2 linked regions of the Homo sapiens genome follow. The protein of the gene in region 2 purifies or fractionates together with the protein of the main gene of each other region. This does not show direct contact. Each region holds a gene or a part of one and is shown on either strand. Other genes may lie near its edges.

Region 1 (9,652 bases), on a different chromosome or scaffold from region 2:
CTTGGGGGCGGGCAGGAATCCCAGGGCGTTGCGGGGGTCCCGGCTGCGGGTGTGGGGGCCGCCACCGCCCCCTCCCGCCTGCGTCCGCGCCGGCTTCCGCATCTGCTCGGCGGCCTCCTCTGCGTCTGGCTGTCTCCCCCCACTTGCGTCTCTCTCCCCCCCTTTGTTCTCGCCTCCGAGCGCTCCCCGCAGCCTCCCCTCCCCCCTGGTATTTAAATCGCCTGCAGGCCCGGAGCCCTCCCCCCGCGGGCCTCCGGGGACACGCAGTGTCCATCCCAGTGGAGGGGCCCATCGGGGGAGGGGCGGAGGGGGAGGGTCTCCTTTGTCTGCGCGGCGGCGGCCGCCTGCGCCGGGGAGGGAGGAGGAGGGGGAGCCCGGCCCGGCGCAACCCCCAGGGCCTCTCCTCGGGCCGAAACCCGTGGTTCCTACAAAGAGGAGCCAGGACTAGAATTAGGGAATTGGGGGCAGGGGCTGCCCTGGGGTCGTGGGGGAAGGTGGCATAGAGCACACTGGGGCCCAGAGGAGGAGAAAGTGCCTGGTTGGGGTGCAGAGGGGGTGCCAGAGTCCAGGGCGGGGGTTCCACTGGAGGGAAGGGGTCCGAATCGCCAGGATGGGGCTCCCAGCACCAGACGGAGACCTCTCTGCACGCGCTTAGGGCCCTGGATCTGGAAGCCGGGAAGGGGTGGGGGTGGGAACTTATCCGTCTCTCCCCACACAAGCACAGCCCTCCCCCGCGGCCTCTGCTTCCGCGTCCCTGTGTCGTCTCCGCGGAGTCTCATGCTCTTCCTTCCTCCCCCCAGCCGGCTCAGTTCGGGGAAGCTGCAGGAGTTCGGCGTGGGTGATGGCAGCAAGCTGACCTTGGTACCCACCGTGGAAGCGGGCCTCATGGTAAATGGCCATGGGGCTGCGTGCCCCCAGAGGCCCCCGCACACAGGCAGTAGCCCCTCCCTCGGTACCTGTCCGCACACACACTACCTGGGGCCCCCACCCCGCCAGCCAGCAGGGCCCTCTCCACCCCCTATTCCAGCCCAGGATTCCGACCCCACACTCAGGCCCCTCTCCTCCCTCTCTTTGTAGTCTCAGGCCTCAAGGCCGGAACAGTCCGTGATGCAAGCTCTCGAGAGTCTCACGGAGACGCAGGTAAGACCTCGCCAGCCCCTTCCTAACAGGGCAGCCCTGGGAGCAGGGTGCCTTGGCCACCGACGGGGCCTGGGGGTTGTCTGTGCTCCCAGGAGGCTGGGGGAGGGGAGGGGACGCGCCACCCCGCCTGGGTGCCAGCCTGGCCTGGCCTCCCCACCTCCTCTCCCCCAAGATTCACCACCTGACCCGGAGGGCTTTCTCTCCCACGGTGGCTGCCCTGGGGGAAGGGGGCCTGGCTTTCACAAGACTGCCTGCAGGATGACCTTGGCCTATGGGGCCTCATCCCCGCTCACACCCTGGCCTGCATCCCCAGCCCCCTCCGCCCCCACCGAGGAGCCCCCCTCCAGCCGCTGTGGCTTCCCCAGAGCGAGTTTCTCCTTTTTTACATTTCTGCTGAGGGCTGGGGGTGGCGGCTTGGGTGACACTCCTTCCGCCTTCCGTGACCCCCATCGTGAGAGGGTGGGGATCTCGTCACCCTCCCCTCCTCTCTCTGGCCTTTGTTCTCTACCCCGAAAGGGGAGGGGGCGGGGGTGCCCAGCCCTGGGGCCAGTGAGGCCTAGACAGGATGTTAGGAAAATATTTAGTAAGCGGCCAGGAGGGAGGCTGGGGCTGGCCCTCACCCGGTTCCCGGTTTTGCTGCGGACTTTTTTTTTTTTTTCTCCTTCTTTCCTCATTTTCTTGGCTGCGGCCAAGCCTTCCTCAGACAAGGGCCCTGGCCACCTCCCAGGAGGGTGACACAGGCCTCAGCAATCCGCCCGCTGCCAGGGTGGGGGACGCAGGCTGCCACCCGCCCCAGCAAGGGGTGGCCGGCTTCCCGGGCCTCCCTGGCCCCGAGGCCCGCACCCCCTTCCGCTTTCCCAGCGGCATGTAGAGTCCTGCCCTTTCCCTACATCGCGGGGGCAGGGCGGGGGCCGGGAGCTGGGTGGTCTGCCATGGGGGTGGCCACAGCAGCAGCAGCAGTGGCGTGGGGGCAGAGCCGGGGTCCCGAGCCAGGGCGGGGGCTGCAGGTGATTTCCTGGGGCGAGTGTGAGCAGAGCTCCCCGCCGCTGGGGGGCTGCGGTTGGCAGGGGGCCCAGGGCGTGTTGGCTTCACACCCTCCTCCCTGGGCGCCTGCGTCAGGAAGGAGCTGGGTTGGGGGGGGCTGGAGGGGGTGCTGGGCGGAGACACTGGGCTCCCCAGGGTTGCTTCCCTGCCTGGCACCGAGTCATGCCCGCCCATTAGCCTTCCCCAGGGAGGAAGTTGCAGGGCGGGTGGTGGTGGGGACTCCAGCTGCTCTCGGGAAGCCACCCCGGGCCCTTCCTGCAAAGGCTGTCTTGGGGCAGGGGGGTAGGGGGCCGGGCAGGCTGGGCCGCAGGGTGGGGGCTTCACCCTGCCCTCCTCCCTGCCTCCCTCCCCATGGGCCCCAAGCAGAGAAGGTTACGCCAGCTACTGCCAGTGGAGAGGAGAGCCGGGAGGGAGAGCTGGGAGGCGGTCGGTTCTGAGTCATCCCAGCCTATGTCACTTCTCAGAAACCTCCGCCACCCCCCCCCCCATCCCGGCCACTGGGGAGAGCAGGGCTCTGGCCCATACCCAGAGCAGGGGGCTTGGCGAGGACAGGGTGAGATTCAACCCACACCCACCCTGAACGGGGGCAGATTGAGGGTTTCTGTGCTTGGAGCAGGTTGTGCCCTCCGGGACTCCAGCCCCAGGGCGGTCAGGGCCCCTTCCTGCAGCCTTGCCACAGCCCCCTAGGCCTCCGCCCCGCCCAGGACAGATAAATATTTATCTTGAGAAAGCAAAGGTTAGGACAGAAGAATTCGTGCAGGAATTCCACCCACTTGCTGGCCCTGGTGACTTAGCTGGGAGGGGGCCTGAGGTGGAGCCCCTCCCGTATCCACAGGCAGAGAGGATCTAGGGGCCCATGAGGGTGGGGGAAAGGCAAAGTGAAGGTTGTTTGAGGTCAGTGACTGCCAGCTGGGCCCCGCCCCCTCTGGCCTCAGTTTCCCCTTGCAAGACCGACCTAGTTGGCCAGGGAGGGGCAGGCCCCCGTCTGACCCGCCTCTGTCCCCACAGCCCCCAGCGGCGCCCGGGCCGGGCCGGGCTGGCGGAGGAGGCTTCCGGAAATACAGATTCATTTTATTTAAGCGTCCGTGGCACCGACAGGGACCCCAGAGCCCAGAGAGGGGCGGCGAGAGGCCCCAGGTCACAGCGCGGGGGGACTGGGCCGGGCTGGGCTGGGGGCGCCGCAAGCTGGGGCTCCCAGCTGACGGACCGCTCTCCTTGCAGGTCAGTGACTTCCTGTCGGGCCGTTCGCCACTGACACTGGCCTTGCGTGTGGGCGACCACATGATGTTCGTGCAGCTGCAGCTCGCGGCCCAGCACGCTCCACTGCAACACCGCCATGTGCTGGCCGCTGCGGCCGCCGCCGCTGCTGCGCGGGGGGACCCCAGCATAGCCTCCCCCGTGTCCTCGCCCTGCCGGCCGGTGTCCAGTGCCGCCCGAGTCCCCCCGGTGCCCACCAGCCCGTCCCCTGCATCTCCCTCGCCCATCACAGCCGGCTCCTTCCGGTCCCACGCAGCCTCCACCACCTGCCCGGAGGTGAGCCTGGGGAAGGGAAGGGTGACCCTTGGTTGGAATCCAAAGGGTGGGCCGTCCTGGGGAGGTCTTGGGGAGGACAAGGACTCTTAGTCCCAGGTGAGTCCCTTGTATTAAGGGCTATCCTGTGACCTCGGGCTGGTGGGTGATCCCCCAGCCTAGATTGGTGGGGTATTTCTAGATCCTGAGTTGACGGTCATCGCCTGACATGACCTGGACCAGTAGATGATCTCTTGATCTTTGACTCATGGGTCATCTCTGTGTCCTGGGTTGGTTGTGACCTCGTGACCTTGGGCTAGTTTATCTCTAAACCCTGTGTTGACAGGTCATCTCCTGACCTGGGCTGGTGGGTGATCTCTGGTCCCTGGGTTGCTGGTGATCCCCTGATCCTGGACCCCGTGCTCATGTGCCCCTTCCTCCCATCAGCAGATGGACTGCTCCCCCACGGCCAGCAGCAGTGCCAGTCCTGGTGCCAGCACCACGTCTACCCCAGGGGCCAGCCCTGCCCCCCGCTCCCGAAAACCCGGCGCCGTCATCGAGAGCTTTGTGAATCACGCCCCGGGGGTCTTCTCAGGGACCTTCTCTGGTAGGTGTCACAGCACATGTGTGAGCTCACGTGTGTCCCGTGACCCTGTGCATTTGGGGTCTACATCCACCCACAGGCGACTCCACATATTCTGGGCATACACAGGCTGTGTCCGTCTGCTCACTTCACATGTCCCCCAGGAATCCCCCACACACACGCCTGGCCCTGCCCGGGGGGCCGCGGGTCACCAGGCGCCTGCATACTGGGGACGTGTCCCGCTCCCGCCCCGTGGTCCCTCGTGCACATCAGCCCACATGTCCACGCCATTGCCTGAGCTCATGAGCTCACACCCGTGGACGCCCGTCCTGGACATGCGGGACTGTGCCCGTGCCGGGCACTCACGGCCACCTCTGCCCGCAGGCACGCTACACCCCAACTGCCAAGACAGCAGCGGGCGGCCGCGGCGTGACATCGGCACCATCCTGCAGATCCTGAACGACCTCCTGAGCGCCACCCGGCACTACCAGGGCATGCCCCCTTCGCTGGCCCAGCTCCGCTGCCACGCCCAGTGCTCCCCGGCCTCACCGGCCCCCGACCTGGCCCCCAGAACTACCTCCTGCGAGAAGCTCACGGCTGCCCCCTCAGCCTCCCTGCTGCAGGGCCAGAGCCAGATCCGCATGTGCAAGCCCCCGGGTGAGTGGCCACCCTCGGGGGTCCTACCTTCCCCGCCCGCCTGGGCTTCTCAAGGCCCCTCTGTGTGAGCTGGTGGGCTCAGGAGCAGCTGACCTGCCCAGGGGCTGGGGGGGATGGCAGCTGCCGTGGCCACTGCTCTGCTCCAGCCCGGAGAGAAGGCAGCATGTGTGTCAGGGCACAAAGTGTCCTTGTGTGCTCCCGGGGGGCCACAGGCCCACTTCCTCCTGCCCCACCCCCACCCGGGGCATCATCTCCAGATGGCATTTGGTGCCTCTGTGAATGGCCAAGTCAGGCCTGGCAGGCCGAGGCGGGGCCAGAGCCCACCCCTAAGCATTTCAGTGACTTGGAAAAGCAGCGAACACAACCCCCCTGCCAGCCTGGCCCCAGCTACTCCCAAACGGCGGGTTACTCCCTCCAGAGTCTCACCAGAAGATGGCTACTGTACTGCCCTTGGGCTCTGCACCCGTCGCGGGGGCTCCTCCCAGCTCAGTTTAAAAGTGGGAAACTGGCCGGGCGCGGTGGCTCACGCCTGTAATCCCAGCACTTTGGGAGGCCGACGCGGGCGGATCACGAGGTCAGGAGATCGAGACCATCTTGGCTAACATGGTGAAACTCCGTTTCCACTAAAAATACAAAAAATTAGCCAGGCGTGGTGGTGGGCGCCTGTAGTCCCAGCTACTCGGGAGGCTGAGACAGGAGAATGGCGTGAACCCAGAGGCGGAGCTTGCAGTGAGCCGAGATCGCGCCACTGCACTCCAGCCTGGGCGACAGAGCGAGACTCCGTCTCAAAAAAAAAAAAAAAAAACCAAGGTACAACCCCCAAGTATCTCCCCTCGGATCACAGAAGCGGCCAAGCCCCCTCCATGTAGGACTCCAGGAAGAATGAGGCAGGACAGTCCTGACCTCCCCAGCTCATGGCTGAGCTGGAGAATTAGAAGCCAGCTGCGTAGCTGGGACTCCAGGCAAACACCACCATGCCCAGCTAATTTTGTAATTTTTGTAGAGGAGGGGTCTCGCTCTGTGGCTCAGGCCTGTCTCGAACTCCTGAGGTTGCCCAGGCCTGTCTCGAACTCCTGAGCTCAAGCGATTCTCCTGCCTCGGCCTCCCAAAGTGCTGAGATTACAGGCGTGAACCACTGTGCCCGGCATGGTGGATGTCCTTGACTGTTTCCTTTGCTGACCTCCCTCCAGGGAGGGCAGGACTGTGTCTGACCTCAGGGGCATTTGCTGGGGTCTGGGGTGGTCCTCTGTGTTCAGCAGGTGGAGGCTTTGGGAGTCACAGGCCACTACCTCCTTTGCAGGGGACCGGCTTCGGCAGACAGAAAACCGCGCCACGCGCTGCAAGGTGGAACGGCTGCAGCTGCTTCTGCAGCAGAAACGGCTCCGTAGAAAGGCCCGGCGGGACGCGCGGGGTCCGTACCACTGGTCACCCAGCCGCAAGGCCGGCCGCAGCGACAGCAGTAGCAGCGGGGGCGGCGGCAGCCCCAGCGAGGCCTCCGGCTTGGGCCTCGACTTCGAGGACTCCGTGTGGAAGCCAGAAGTCAACCCTGACATCAAGTCAGAGTTCGTGGTGGCTTAGGATCTTCGGATCGGCCACCCTCGCCCCTCGCACCCCAGCCCAGGGCGGCGGGGACTCCGAGAGCCCCGGAGAGAACGTGGCCCAGCCCTGGAGGGCAGGCGGCCACTCCCCCAGCCAGAAGTCTTTTTTTCTTTTCTTCTTTTTTATTATTTTTTTCTTTTTTTAAAAAGTTCTGACCGTGGTTTCCTGGACTCTTCATGGGCTTTGCTTCCTACCTCCTTCACCCTTCACTCCTGCCCTCCTCTTCCTCCTCCTCCTCCTCCTCCGTCTGTCTCCTTTCACCTCTGCGCCAGGTCGGTCCTCCCTGCCAACCTTCCCCAGCTCCAATATGTAGCAGTCTCTCTGGATGGCGGAGAGTGAAGGAGACGGAGAAACGCGCCCCATCCCTTCCGCCGCCTCCTTTCCCCCCCGACCCTATTCAGGTTTTAAGTCAAAAATGTCGATATGTCATTATGCACTTTACAGATGAGGGGAGGGGCCGCAGTGCGCAGAACCCACCCCACCCCCCAGTGCAGACTTCGGGGTCTCCACCCCAGGCCAGCAGCGCCCACTGGGCTACAGCAAGCCAACAGGTCACAGAAGCCAACGAGGGGACTGTTTCTCTTCCACTCCTATCCTCTTTTCTTGATCTTTTTTTTGCATTTTCCTTCATTTCTTTAACAAGGAGAGCAAAGCTGTTTTAGCAGAGGCTGGGGCTGAGGTCCCCATGGGGTTTGGGTGCAGGGGCATGGCACCCTTTCCTGTCGGGAAGGGAGAGGGGAACTACCCCCCCAGCCTGCCCTCCGCCCCGCCCCAGCCGGCGGACTGTGCTGTTTCCTCCGCCCCCACTCCCGTGTTTTCTGACCTCCTGCCTGAGTTTGGGGTATTTATAGACTATTAATTTTCTGACTGAGCCAATAGTGGTTGGGGAACTCTTGAAAAAGGGGAGAGAATGGCTGGGTGCTGGGGAGTTCCCCCCTCCGAGCCCTCCTTCCCGGCCCAACCTGAGGGATGTGGATTTGGGACTGTCTGGGGGCCCCTCCTGCAGCGAGGATGGGAGGGGGTGCTGAGCTGTGAATCCCCTGGGCAGGGGGCGACAACTCCGTGTAGCATTAACCCCCGTGGCGGGGTCCGCTGCTGGTCTAATTTGGACCCCCTGCCTCTCAGTGCCCCTGCCCTAGGGGTGTCTGTCTCCAGAGGGGAGGGACAAATCCCCTACTGGGGCCATTTCAATGGGGTAGTTTTTGGATTTTTTTCCCCACTCACTTTTTATTTTTTAATGATAATGGAGATGTCTGGACCCTTCCTCACCCCACCTGTCGGTCTTGTCCTGGCTCTGCCTGTCCCCCACCGTTGTTCTCGTAGGTGAACCCCAGGTCCTCAACTCCCCCCCTTTATGTGTTGAAAGTTAATGGTTTCAGATGTGAACATCACGTGTTATAACTGTAGCGCTGTAAATTTTTTTGTGGGAGGGTGGGCAGGGAGGGGTCCCAGAGGGTAGAGCTCAAGGATTTTGGGTTTTGTTTTGTTTTCATTTTTCCAAAAAAAAAAGAAAAAAAAATAGAAAAAAAAGGAGTAAAAGGGGCGGGTTTGTTTTTTGAAGAACTGTCTTGGATACCTATTTAAATGTGTGTTCTGTTTTGTTTTTTAACGATTTTTAAATAACGTCTGTGCCTCCACTGGTTGAGGGTGGAACCTCCAGGCAGGAACCGGCTCGCCACCCTCTGCCCGGTAAGGGCTGCCCAAGAAAGCATTACCCGCCCTCGGGGGGTCGGGCTGTGGGGGTCCCGGCACCTGGCGTGAGTTTCATGTATGAAAACATAAAATTGAAAAAAAAAAAAAAACCTACACGAGCACCGTGATTTCAAGTAATAAACAGAAAATGAAACACACATTGACTCCCGCCTGCTCGCCTAGTGGGGGGATCTGGCCTTGGTTGGGAGGGTTCCTGGGGTGGGATGTCAGCTCAGGGAGTCAGAGGGACTGACCTGGGTCCCAAGGCCCCGAAGAGGGGGTGGGGCAGGGGTCAGGGCCCTGAGAATTTCCCACGCTCCTTCCCCGGCTGCCGGGTGGGCAGGAAGCAGCCAGGGTGGGAGGGAGGAGCCCAGCCACTTCCTGGTACCCAAGGCCGGAAGTCCCTTAGGGTGTGGGGCGAGGGCCTGCCTGCCTGCTTCGTGGCCTGGGCAGGACCCTGGCCCCCTCAGGACCTGCCAGTATGGGGGAGACGCGACCACCAGCTCTCCCCAGCCACAGGAGTCGGGGACTCCCACTCTGCCACACCCACCTGCTCCCCTTCCTGGAGTCTCACATCTGTGTGGCTTGCTGCAGGGAGATCACCAGGCCGACTGGGAGGACCTAGGACTCCGCAGGGTACCTTGGGCTGGCAGGTGATACAGGCCTGGCTTGACCCAGCCCTGGGGGGCCTCTCTGGCCACACCTCCTGACATTCCAGCCCTTCCCAGACCTGGCCTTCAGCTCCAAACCTCCCGGCCTTTGCCCCCTGTCTAGGAACACCCCTGGTCCGGCTGTCCCTTGCTGTCTGGGAACTTCCCCAGCCTGCGCCTTCCACCCCTGTCCACCCCGTCCCGCAGACCCCACCCTTCCCTCTCTCTGTCCCTAGCCTGGAGCTCCCCGTGAGCCTCACCAGGACTGAGTCCTCTCTGGGGTCCCACCTCCACCCATGTCCGGGCTGGGCAGAGATGAGGCAATAACACTATTTCATGTCTTTTTTTAAATTTTGTAACCTGTATTTCCTCAGGTAACAAGAGTTGCCTATGAGAAGTAATTGGGCTCCCATTTTATAGATGGGAGAACAGAGGCCCAAAGAGGAACATCACTTGGCCCAGAGGATTTGGGGTGTTTGTTCAATGATGTGACCTCCACCCCTTATCCCATCTCTAGGGGCCCCAGTACCGGGAGCCCCCAGGGGAAGGGGCACAGGTTCAGAGAGTGGCCTGGGAGCACCTTCCTGAGACCCCTCTGCCCCTCCCAACGCCCAGTCAACCCCAAATCATCGCACGCCCACGGCAGGAAGGCGGATGCCCAGTCAGGCGGCACCCACCCCCCGCCCCGTCCCTGGTGCGGATGTCCCCTCGGGGCTCAGGGTGGGGGTGCGGGTCACCGACGCCAGGCCTGGGGTCAAGGCGAGGGCCCCAGGGCGCC
Region 2 (10,182 bases):
TTGTGTTTTTAGTAGAGACAGGGTCTCGCCATGTTGCCCAGGCTGGTCTCAAACTCCTGAGTTCAAGCAATCCTCCTGCCTCGGCCTCCCAAAGTGTTGAGATTACAGACGTGGGCCACCATGCCAGGCCTTTCATTTAGATTTTTCCAATTGTTTGCCATTATACTTTTGTTGTAATAGGCAGCCTTTGTGTGAATTTTTGTGCACTTCGTAACTGAGTGTACACTTTGGAATTCCGATTGCTGGGTCTTAGGGAATGTGTATTTAAAATTGCCATTCAAGAAAACCATGCCAGATTTTAATAAAGTCAATAGTGTGAGTAAGCATTTATTTATATTCTCTCAGGCTGGTGTGTGATGAGCTATATGAGTCAATTCAAAAGTTAAGATACATAGTTTTACTTTTGAAGCTAAGACTTGTAGTATTTTCTTCTACAGATACACTTACATGAGTGAGCAAAGATGTGTGTGCGTGTGTATACAGTAAGTCCTCACTTAACATTGTCCATAGGTTCTTGGAAACTGACTTTAAGTGAAATGACGTAGCAAAACCAATTTTTTTCTCATCAGTGTTGCAGCAAAATGATATTGAATGAACCAGTGTCATTCAAGGGCCTGCTGTGTGTCATTTTGCTTAAAGTTGCAGTTGCCAAGAACCTACTGACCACGTTAACTGAGGACTTACTGTACATATAAACATATACCAGAGGTGTGTGCCATGAAGCCCGGCTAATTTTTAAAAGATTTTTGTAGGCTGGGTGCAGTGGCTCATGCCTGTAATCCCAGCACTTTGGGAGGGCGAGGCAGGTGCATCACGAGGTCAGGAGTTCAAGACCAGTCTGGACAACATGGTGAAGCCCCGTCTCTACTAAAAATACAAAAATTAGTCAGATATGGTGGCGGGCACCTGTAATCCCAGCTACTTGGGAGGCTGAGGCAGAATTGCTTCAACCCAGGAGGCGGAGGTTGCAGCGAGCTGAGATGGCGCCACTGCACTCCAGCCTGGGCAACAGAGCAAGACTCCGTCTCAGAAAAAAAAGAAAAAAAAGATTTTTGTAGAGATGAAGTCTCACTGTGTTGCCCAGGCTGGTCTTGAACTCCTAGACTCAAGTGATCCTCCCAACTCAGGCTGCCAAAGCACTGGGATTACAGGTGTGAGCCACCATGCCCAGCAGAATCAGACTTTTTATTACACTTACATTATTACACCACCGTTCAAGCATTCTACTCTCCATCTTCTACCTTACTCCCTCTAGAATACCAATTCCAACAAATGTTTGATATTGTTGGGACCTATAGTTCATTGATTCCATCTTTTCACTGTTGCACACCCCTCAGGTTCTCACTTCTCTCCTTACATAGTTTGAAGTTCAGAGTCAATAATTGTGGAGGCTTCCTTGTATACAACTTTAACTTATTTTTTTTCTCTTTCACACTTAATTATACTGGCTTGGCAAGACCATAGCCTTCGTATGGTAAGCAGAGTAATGGCCTCCCGAGGATATCCACATACTAATTTCTGAACCCTGTGAATATGTTACCCTCATATGGTAGAGAGGAATTAAGGTCACTAACCAGCTGACCCTAAAATAGGGAAATTGGAATATCTGGGTGAGCCCAGTGTAATCACAGGGTGCTTAAAAGTGGAAGAGGGGCTGGGTGTGGTGGCTCACGCCTGTAATCCCAGCACTTGGGGAGGCCAAGGTGGGTGGATCACCTGAGGTCAGGAGTTCGAGACCAGCCTGGCCAACGTGATGAAACCGTTTCTACAAAAATAGAAAAATAAGCTGGACGTGGTGGTACACGCCTGTAATCCCAGCTACCCAGGAGGCTGAGGCAGGAGAATTGCTTGAACCCAGGAGGTGGAGGTTGCAGTGAGCTGAGATCGCACCGTTGCACTCCAGCCTAGGCTACAAAAGTGAAACTCCATCTCCAAAAAAAAAAAAAAAAAAAAAAGTGGAAGAGGGAGGCAGAAGAGGAGGTCATAGTGACTCAGTGTGAGAAGGATTCAACCTATCCTACCTGGCTCGGTAGATGGGGGAAGGGGCTATGAACCAAGGAATGTGTATGGCCTCTGGAAGCTGGAAAAGCAAGAAGCACATTCTCCCCCTAGAGCCTCCAGAAAGGAACACAGCCTTGCTGCAACCTTAATTTTAGCCCAGTGAGACCTGTGTCAGACTTCTAACCTATATAACCTGCAAGATATAACCTGTAAGATAAAAGATAATACTTTGTGTTGTTTTAACATTTGTGATGATTTGTAACGGCAGCAATAGGAAACTAATACATTTTGCTAAATCCAACTCTGGCCCTCTCAGATGAACATGGTTGAAGAAACAATCATGTGACTGGTCTTACTTGAAATCCATCAATATCGATGTCAAGCAGGCCCTTCATGCTGCCTGGCAATCATAGTACATTTCTCTAATGTATTCACTCATCCATTGTACTAGATGCCTGTTTCATGCCTTCTTGCTTTTCAGACCCTCAACATCTCACCCTCATCTCTCTTGCTTCCAATTTCACTGGGTTGATAGAAGCAATCAGAAGACAGTTTCCAGAAGCTTCTTCCATATCAACCTACTTCCCAGCATTATTCCCTCTGTGTTCTTTGCCTTCTGTCCTGTTAGTATGGATGAACTCTCCATGCTTCTAGCTAAGGCACAACCCCTCCATTTGTGCAAAAGATCTCATCCCTTGTCACTCACTGGTATAAGGACTTCAGCCCACCAATTCTTTCATTGTTAAAAAAAAAAATCCTCTCTTGATCCTATTTTCATTTCCAGTTATTGCTCCATTTCTTCTCTTTCCTTTACAGCAAAATTCCAGGTGTCATATCATTGTCTACACTTGTCATTTCCTATTTCTTTTCTCCTAACTTCTGTTGAACTCGTCCCAATCAGGTTTTCACCCCATCACTTTACACAAACTGCTTTTATCAAAGTCACCAATGACATTCATATAACTAAATCCAACAGTCAATTCTCAATCTTCATCTACCTCGACCAGTAGTACTTGACGAAGTTAATCACTTCTCCATGAAACACATGATTCATTAGTCTTCCAAGGAGCCCTTGCTCTCCGGATTTTCTTCTTACTTCACTGACTGCTGCTTCAGATTCTGTTGATATTCCTCCTCATATCTTCTAAGATAATTTAAATCCCCAGATATGACATTTCACGCTGAAATACTTAAGTATATATTCCTTAAAAAGAACATATTCTTTTTTTTTTTTGAGACGGAGTCTTGCTCTGTTGCCCAGGCTGGAGTGCAGTGGCGCAATCTCAGCTCACTGCAACCTCTGCCTCCCAGGTTCAAGTGATTCTCTGCCTCAGCCTCCCAAGTAGCTGGGATTACAGGCACCTGCTACCACGCCAGGCTAATTATTGTATTTTTAGTATGGGGTTTCACCATGTTGGCCAGGCTGGCCTCAAACTCCTGGCCTCAGGTGATTCACCTGCCTCAGCCTCCCAAAGTGCTGGGATTACAGGCATGAGCCCCCTTGCCCGGTCAAAAAAAAAACCATATTCTTACAAAACCACCATGCCATATCACACCTAACAAAATAAATGAATTCATTGATATTATCTAATACATAGTCCATATTCAAATTTTTTTTTTTTGAGACGGAGTCTTGCAGTGTCATCCGGGCTGGAGTGTGGTGGCGCAATCTCGGCTCACTGTAAACTTCGCCTCCTGGGTTCAAGTGATTCTCCTGCCTCAGCCTCCCGAGTAGCTGGGATTACAGGCACCCACCACCATGCCCAGCTAATTTTTTGTATTTTTAGTAGAGACAGGGTTTCACCATGTTGGCCAGGCTGGTCCTGAACTCCTGACCAGTGATTCGCCTGCCTCGGCCTCCCAAAGTGCTGTGATTACAGGCGTGAGCTACCATGCCCAGCCTCAAATTTTTGAATGGTTTATCAGGATCCAAAGAAGGTCTACAACTTCATTTGGGTTTTATGTTTCTTGAACTTCTAATCTAGAACAGTTCTCCCCTCCCCTCCACTTTTATTTCTATGACAATGATTTGAATTAGTGTGATGTCTTCCTTGTAGTGTCATTAGTTTGTTCTGTCTCCTATAATTTAAACTAAAGGCTTGATAAGATTAAGCTTCAATATTTTTGGCATGAATACTTTATAGGGAAGGCTGTGTAGCTATATTGTGTCATATCAGGAAGTATATAACATCTGACTTTCCTACTTTCAATAATGCTATTGAAAGGTTGATCAATGGGTTCAGTGATTACAATCTGATTCCTCCTTTGCAAAGTTGCATTTCCCCCTTATGATGAGGAAGTAATACGTTCAGGATAGCTTAGTATTCTGTGAATATCCAGTTCCCCACCAACCCATCAGGCTTTCAACCATTGATAATTATTGCTCAAATCAGTTTTTTTTTTTAAAGAGATGGGGTCTCCCTATGTTGCCCAGGCTGGTCTTGAACTCCTAGTCTCAAGCGATCCACCTGCCTCAGCCTCCCAAAGTGTCAAATCAGTTATTAGAGATTACAAAGTGGTGATTTTCTTTTCTGAGACGGAGTTTCGCTCTTGTTGCCCAAGCTGGAGTACAATGACGCGATCTCAGCTCACTGCAACCTCCACCTCCCGGGTTCAAGTGATTCTCCTGCCTCAGCCTCCTGAGTAGCTGGGATTACAGGTGGGTGCCACCACACCCGGCTAATTTTTTGTGTTTTTAGTAGAAACGGGGTTTCGTCATGTTAGCCAGGCTGGTCTCCAACTCTTGACTTCAGGTGATCTGCCTGCCTTGGCCTCCCCAAGTGCTGGGATTACAGGCGTGAGCCACCAAGCCTGGCTGCAAAGTCGTGATTTTCTAGTTTCACCGTTCTTTGTGTATTCATTAGCTGGAATTCTATAGATGATCTTAATGTTGGAATGCCATGTCTTTTTTTTTTTTTTTTTTTTTTGAGGCAGGTCTGGCTATGTTGCCCAGGCTGGTCTCGAACTCCTGAGCCCAAGTGATCCACCTGCCTTGGCCTCCCAAAGTGCTGGGATTACAGGCATGAGCCACCATGCCCAGCTGTCTTTTTTTTTTTTTTTTTTTTTTTTTAATACTCCTTCCTTGGGTGATCTTATCCAGGTTCTTGGCTTTAAATCTCATCTCTGTGCTGAGAACTTTCACATTTTTTTAGTAAACCTTTTACTTTGGCATTATTTTATTTTATTTTTAAAGTTTTTGGGTTTATTTATAATTGACACATAATTATACATGTTTATGGAGTACAGTTTTATTTCTGTTTTTTTAGAGACAGGGTCTCGCTCTGTCATCTAGGCTGGAGTGCAGTGGCGCCATCATAGTTCACCGTAATCTTGAACTCCTGGACTCAAACGATCTTTCTGCCTTGGCTTCCAAATGTGCTGGGATTACAGGCATGAGCCATTGCACTTGACCAGTTTTATTTTTGACCAACAATAATTGTATATATTTGTGGGGTACAATGTGATGTTTCAATGCACGTATACATTGTGAAATGATCAAATCAGGCTAATTAACATATCCATCACCTCAAATACTTATCATTTCTTTGTGGTGAAAAAATTTAAAATCCATTCTTCAGCCTGACCAACATGGCGAAACTCTGTCTCTACTAAAAATACAAAAATTAGTTGTGTGTGGTGGTACGCATCTGTAGTCCCAGCTACTCGGGAGGCAGAGGCAGGAGAATCCTATGAACCCAGGAGGCGGAGGCTGCAGTAACCTGAGATCATGGCACACTGCACTCCAGGCTGGGTGACAGAGGGAGACCCTGTCTCAAAAAAAAAAAAGTTCATTCTTTTAGCTATTTTGAAATATATGATTCATTATTATTAATAATAGTCACCATGATGTGCAGTAGATCACTAGAACCTATTCCTCCTGTTTAACTGAAACTTTGTACCATTGACTAACATTTCTCCTTTCCCCATCTACCCCTATCCCCCCAGCCTCTGGTAACTACTGTTCTACTCTCTACTTCTTTTCTAGATTCCATGTATAAGCGAGATCATGGAGTATTTGTCTCTCCGTGCCTGGTTTATTTCACCTAGCAAAATGTCTTTTAGGTTCATTCATGTTGCAAATCAGAATTTCCTGCCTTTTAACGGCTGAATAATTTTTCATTGTGTGTATATACCACATTTTAAAAATCCATTCATCCTGTTGATGGTGACTTTGGTTGTTTCCTTTTCTTGGCTACTATGAATAATGCTGCAGTGAACACGGGAGTGCAGGTATCTCTTCAATATACTGATTTCAGGTCCTTTGGAAGTACCCAGAAGTGAGATTGCTGGATCATATGGTAACTTTATTTTTAGTTTTTTGAGGAACCTCTGCACTGTTTTCCAGAATGGCCATACTTATGTATGTATTTATTTATTTAGAGACAGGGTCTCCCTCTGTCACCCAGGCTGGAGTGCAGTGGCACGATCTCGGCTCACTGAAGCTTGGGGCTCCTGAGCTCAAGCAGTCCTCCCACCTCAGCCCCCCAAGTAGCTGGGATCACAGGTGCACACCACCATGCCTGGCTAATTTTTTGTATTTTTGGTAGAGATGGGGTTTTGCCATGTTGCCCAGGCTGGTTTTAAACTCCTGAGCTCAAGCGATCTGCCCACCCTAGGCCTCCCAAAGTGCTGGGATTACAGGCGTGAAGCACCATGCCCAGCCCAGAATGTCCATGCTAATTTATAATAGTACCAACAGTATACAAGCGTTCCCTTTTCTCCACATCCTTGCCAACACTTGTAAGAGTTAAAGAAAGAGGAAAGAAACAAAATGCAGCTCAACAGTTAAAGGCAGGTTTACTTCAGATAAAACCTGAGAGGGGCTTCTGGCCGATTTTTGGTCAGGAGTGCTTTCTCTTACAGACTAAGAGTATATATTGGTTTTAGGGTGAGGGGGCTTATCACAAGCTTGGAATGTTTCTGTGTGAGGGAGAGGTTTTATGGCAGGGTTGGAATGTCTCTGGGAGGAGAGGAGGTTATCTTGGGGCAGACATCTTTCCAGCCAAGGCGGGTTATCTCAAGGCTGCCATCTTCCTGGCCAGAGGGGGGTTATCTTGGGGCTAGCATGTCTCTGGTTGGGGAGGAGTTTGGAATTGTGGGATATGATGAGGTTGCTCTTCAAATAGCCTGATCAATCCTTTATTCTTAATTTTTTTTTTTATTTTTTTTGAGTCGGAGTCTTGCTCTGTCTCCCAGAGCAGAGTGCAGTGGCGCAATCTCGGCTCACTGCAAGCTCCTCCTCCCGGGTTCATGCCATTCTCCTGCCTCAGCCTCCCAAGTAGCTGGGACTACAGGCGCCCACCACCACGCCCAGCCAATTTTTTGTATTTTTAGTAGAGATGGGATTTCACCGTGTTAGCCAGGATGGTCTCTATCTCCTGCCTCGGCCTCCCAAAGTGCTGGGATTACAGGCGTGAGCCACCGTGCCTGGCCAAGGTCTTGGACTTTTATAAGGCTTGGGGCTGTGTCTTCTAATGAGTTCTGTAGTTCTGTTGAAACAGCCTTAAAGTATGTTATGGAAGTGGCTAATCTGCTTGCTCTCAATCCAAGTCCAGAGGTTATACCCAAGGTGGCTATTAAGGGAATGACATGGATGGCCCTTCCTTTTCTAACATATTGGATGGGTGGGATGGGCAAAGGTCGATCAGGAGGAACAAGTCCAATGGAGGGAGATAGATAAACTAGGGTACAGGTTCCAGTCCAGTTGGTAGGGAGACAAAGGTATGTGTTGGTGCCACACAAAAAGAACAGGCCTTTGTCGTGTATACAGGCAGAGATATGGAAAGACAGTAGGTGAACTAAACATGGGGTGTTTTTTCTTTCCTGTGGTTCATTACTCCAAATGGACAAGGAGGAGGCCAGGGAGACACCTACTATAGTAGAAATATAGGAAGAGTTACTTTTTACACATTTAATGCAATAGGATGTTGCACCATTGATATTGAGCCATGGAAAAAGGTGGGCACCAGGCACAGCACAAGTTAGGCCATAGGCATTGGCTGAGAGAGAGGCTGTCAAACGAGCCAGTTGCGGAAATGCTCCATTTGCTTCAGGTGATACTGGGTAGTTAACTCGGTTAGTTTGATGGTCAGAGGGGTGTTTAATAATGATAGTACGGTTGCGTTGGTTAGGTGTTAAGGATCCTACAGGGAGATTTCCTTCAGAGGCTGAAAAGCAAAGTGAAGCTTGTTGTAAAAGGGGGGTGTGTTTAGTTATAGGCCCTTTAATGGGAGAGTCTTGAGGCTTGAGGCGTTGCAGGGAGTTGTAATAGGTTTGAAATAATTTGTTAGCCTGATTGGCCCTGGAAGTAGGATAATTGCCGACCAGGGTGTCAGCTCTTTCAAGAAAGGAAGCTCCCTTTTGGAGTGTATAAATTAGGGTTATGCTCCCTGCTAAAAGGTCATGAAGGGATGCAGGAAGGGCTGTGTAGGCTGAGGAAGACAGCGATAAGCACATCCAGCATTCAGGAGCAAAGGAAGAGTTAGTTCGCAGCAAGAGGGATTGTGTAAGGTTTATAGTTCGAGCTTGAGAGCAGTGAGAAGTGGTTGTATTGGTGAGGTTGATGTACTTAGGGTATTTGTATTGAAAAAAAAACAAGCAAAAAGCGAAAAAGGTTATTTGGGTAAGAGTAAAGTCCTGGAAAGTTCCTTGAAGCCATAGGTCCCATAGAACAGTAAAGAGCTGATCAGGATATATAATGGGAGTTTCGTAAGGGTACCGCTGAAGGACTGTAACAAGGTTGATTAGGAAGCAGTGAAAGTTTGGGAGAGAAAGAGACATAAGTGGTTTAGGTGAATTTCTCTTCCTTTTCTTCCAAGATTCGGGTGAGGCAAAGGGAAGTGGGTCCTGTGGAGACACAAGAGAAGGCTGAAGGGGTTTTGGATTTGGTTGTTTGGGTATGTGGCAAAGGGAAGTCTGTTTTCTTGAGAGAAGTATAATGAAACCAGTTGGGGAGTCCCTGGAGTTTTGCTGCTGTGGGTATGGTAAGAATGATTTGGTAAGGTCCCTTTGTTAGAAATGTTTGTTCCCTGGTGCCATAAAGAAATAGCACTTGAACATAAAATTAATTTCCTCAGCAAGGCCATTTTTACTTTCTGCAGAAAGAGCACCCTCGCCAGCAGTTTTGCCATGAGAGTACACCGAACAAAGGAGACAGGGTCATTTATAAACTGACGCTTCCACCCTACTGCTGTGTCCAGTTTCCATTGGCTGGAACGGGACCTCACATTCTGTATTTGTCCCGATTGGCTAGCAACTTAGAACTTTTTAAAAGAGGCAAAGACAGAGGAGAACAAAGGAAGGAGGAAGTAACTTGTGGAATGCTGAGAAAGGTAAAAACACCTTCAAATAAGGAAGAGGAACAGGCTATGACCTAATGTTTGCTTGGACTAGTATAAGCATGCCAGGGCAAATATTTAGGCTAAATTGTAGGAGCTAAGAACATAAAGTACATTGATTTCTTTATTACGGCTGGCCGATATTTAAGGATGTTAGCACAGGTCTTTGAATAAATTTTGCTTCTAAGAGAAGTTACTATTTATTCCTAATTAGGTGGGGAGGAAAGTCTTTGAAGAGGAACCTCTACTTTACTTTTTACACCTTCCATTTAGGTGTGAGGGGGGAATTGGGGGTAGGACTGGGATCTTTTATGAGAACCCAGTCTTCTGGCTATAGGAAGGGATTAGAGGAGTCAGTGATGGGTTGTGGCAGGTATTTGTCAGCATATTCCCAAATGAAATGGCGGATAATATACAGAAGAGGGGAAACAAGGGGAGTTGGTAGAGGTGGTGTTTGACCCTGAGGTGGAACAAAAGGGGCCAGTGGTTTCCCATACATGAGTTCAAAGGGGCTGAGCATTAAGGGTTTATGTGGGAATGCCCAAATTTTTAGAAGGGCCAAAGGCAAAAGTGTAACCCAGTCTTTAAGAGTTTGGAGTGAGTACCTGGTGAGGGTGGTTTTTAGAATGCCATTCATTTTTCCAACCTTTCCTGAAGATTGAGGTCGATAGAGGATATATAGCTTCCAGGTGATATGTAGAGCTGGTGCAAGTGTTGAGTAATTTGAGAGATGAATTCAGGACCATTGTCGGATTGAAAAGAAAGAGGCACCCTGAACCTGGGTATGATTTCCATTATTAATTTGGAGGTGACAGTAGAAGCCCATTTGTTGGTTGTGGGAAAA

Evidence for each region.
Region 1: the proteins of ERCC6L (region 2) and MIDN purify together in Homo sapiens (affinity purification with mass spectrometry; 2 studies listed by BioGRID and IntAct, with this or other methods). This does not show direct contact.

The regions. Positions count from the first base shown.
Region 1 is NC_000019.10:1,250,762-1,260,413, forward strand, and holds the end of MIDN (midnolin), read left to right. Parts: intron 1-800; coding exon 801-888; intron 889-1,077; coding exon 1,078-1,140; intron 1,141-3,192; coding exon 3,193-3,321; intron 3,322-3,405; coding exon 3,406-3,717; intron 3,718-4,140; coding exon 4,141-4,300; intron 4,301-4,660; coding exon 4,661-4,933; intron 4,934-6,233; coding exon 6,234-6,511; 3' UTR 6,512-8,382; downstream 8,383-9,652. UniProt on the Homo sapiens protein: Facilitates the ubiquitin-independent proteasomal degradation of stimulus-induced transcription factors such as FOSB, EGR1, NR4A1, and IRF4 to the proteasome for degradation. Promotes also the degradation of other substrates such as CBX4.
Region 2 is NC_000023.11:72,227,163-72,237,344, reverse strand, and holds part of ERCC6L (DNA excision repair protein ERCC-6-like), read left to right. Parts: intron 1-10,182. UniProt on the Homo sapiens protein: DNA helicase that acts as a tension sensor that associates with catenated DNA which is stretched under tension until it is resolved during anaphase. Functions as ATP-dependent DNA translocase. Can promote Holliday junction branch migration (in vitro).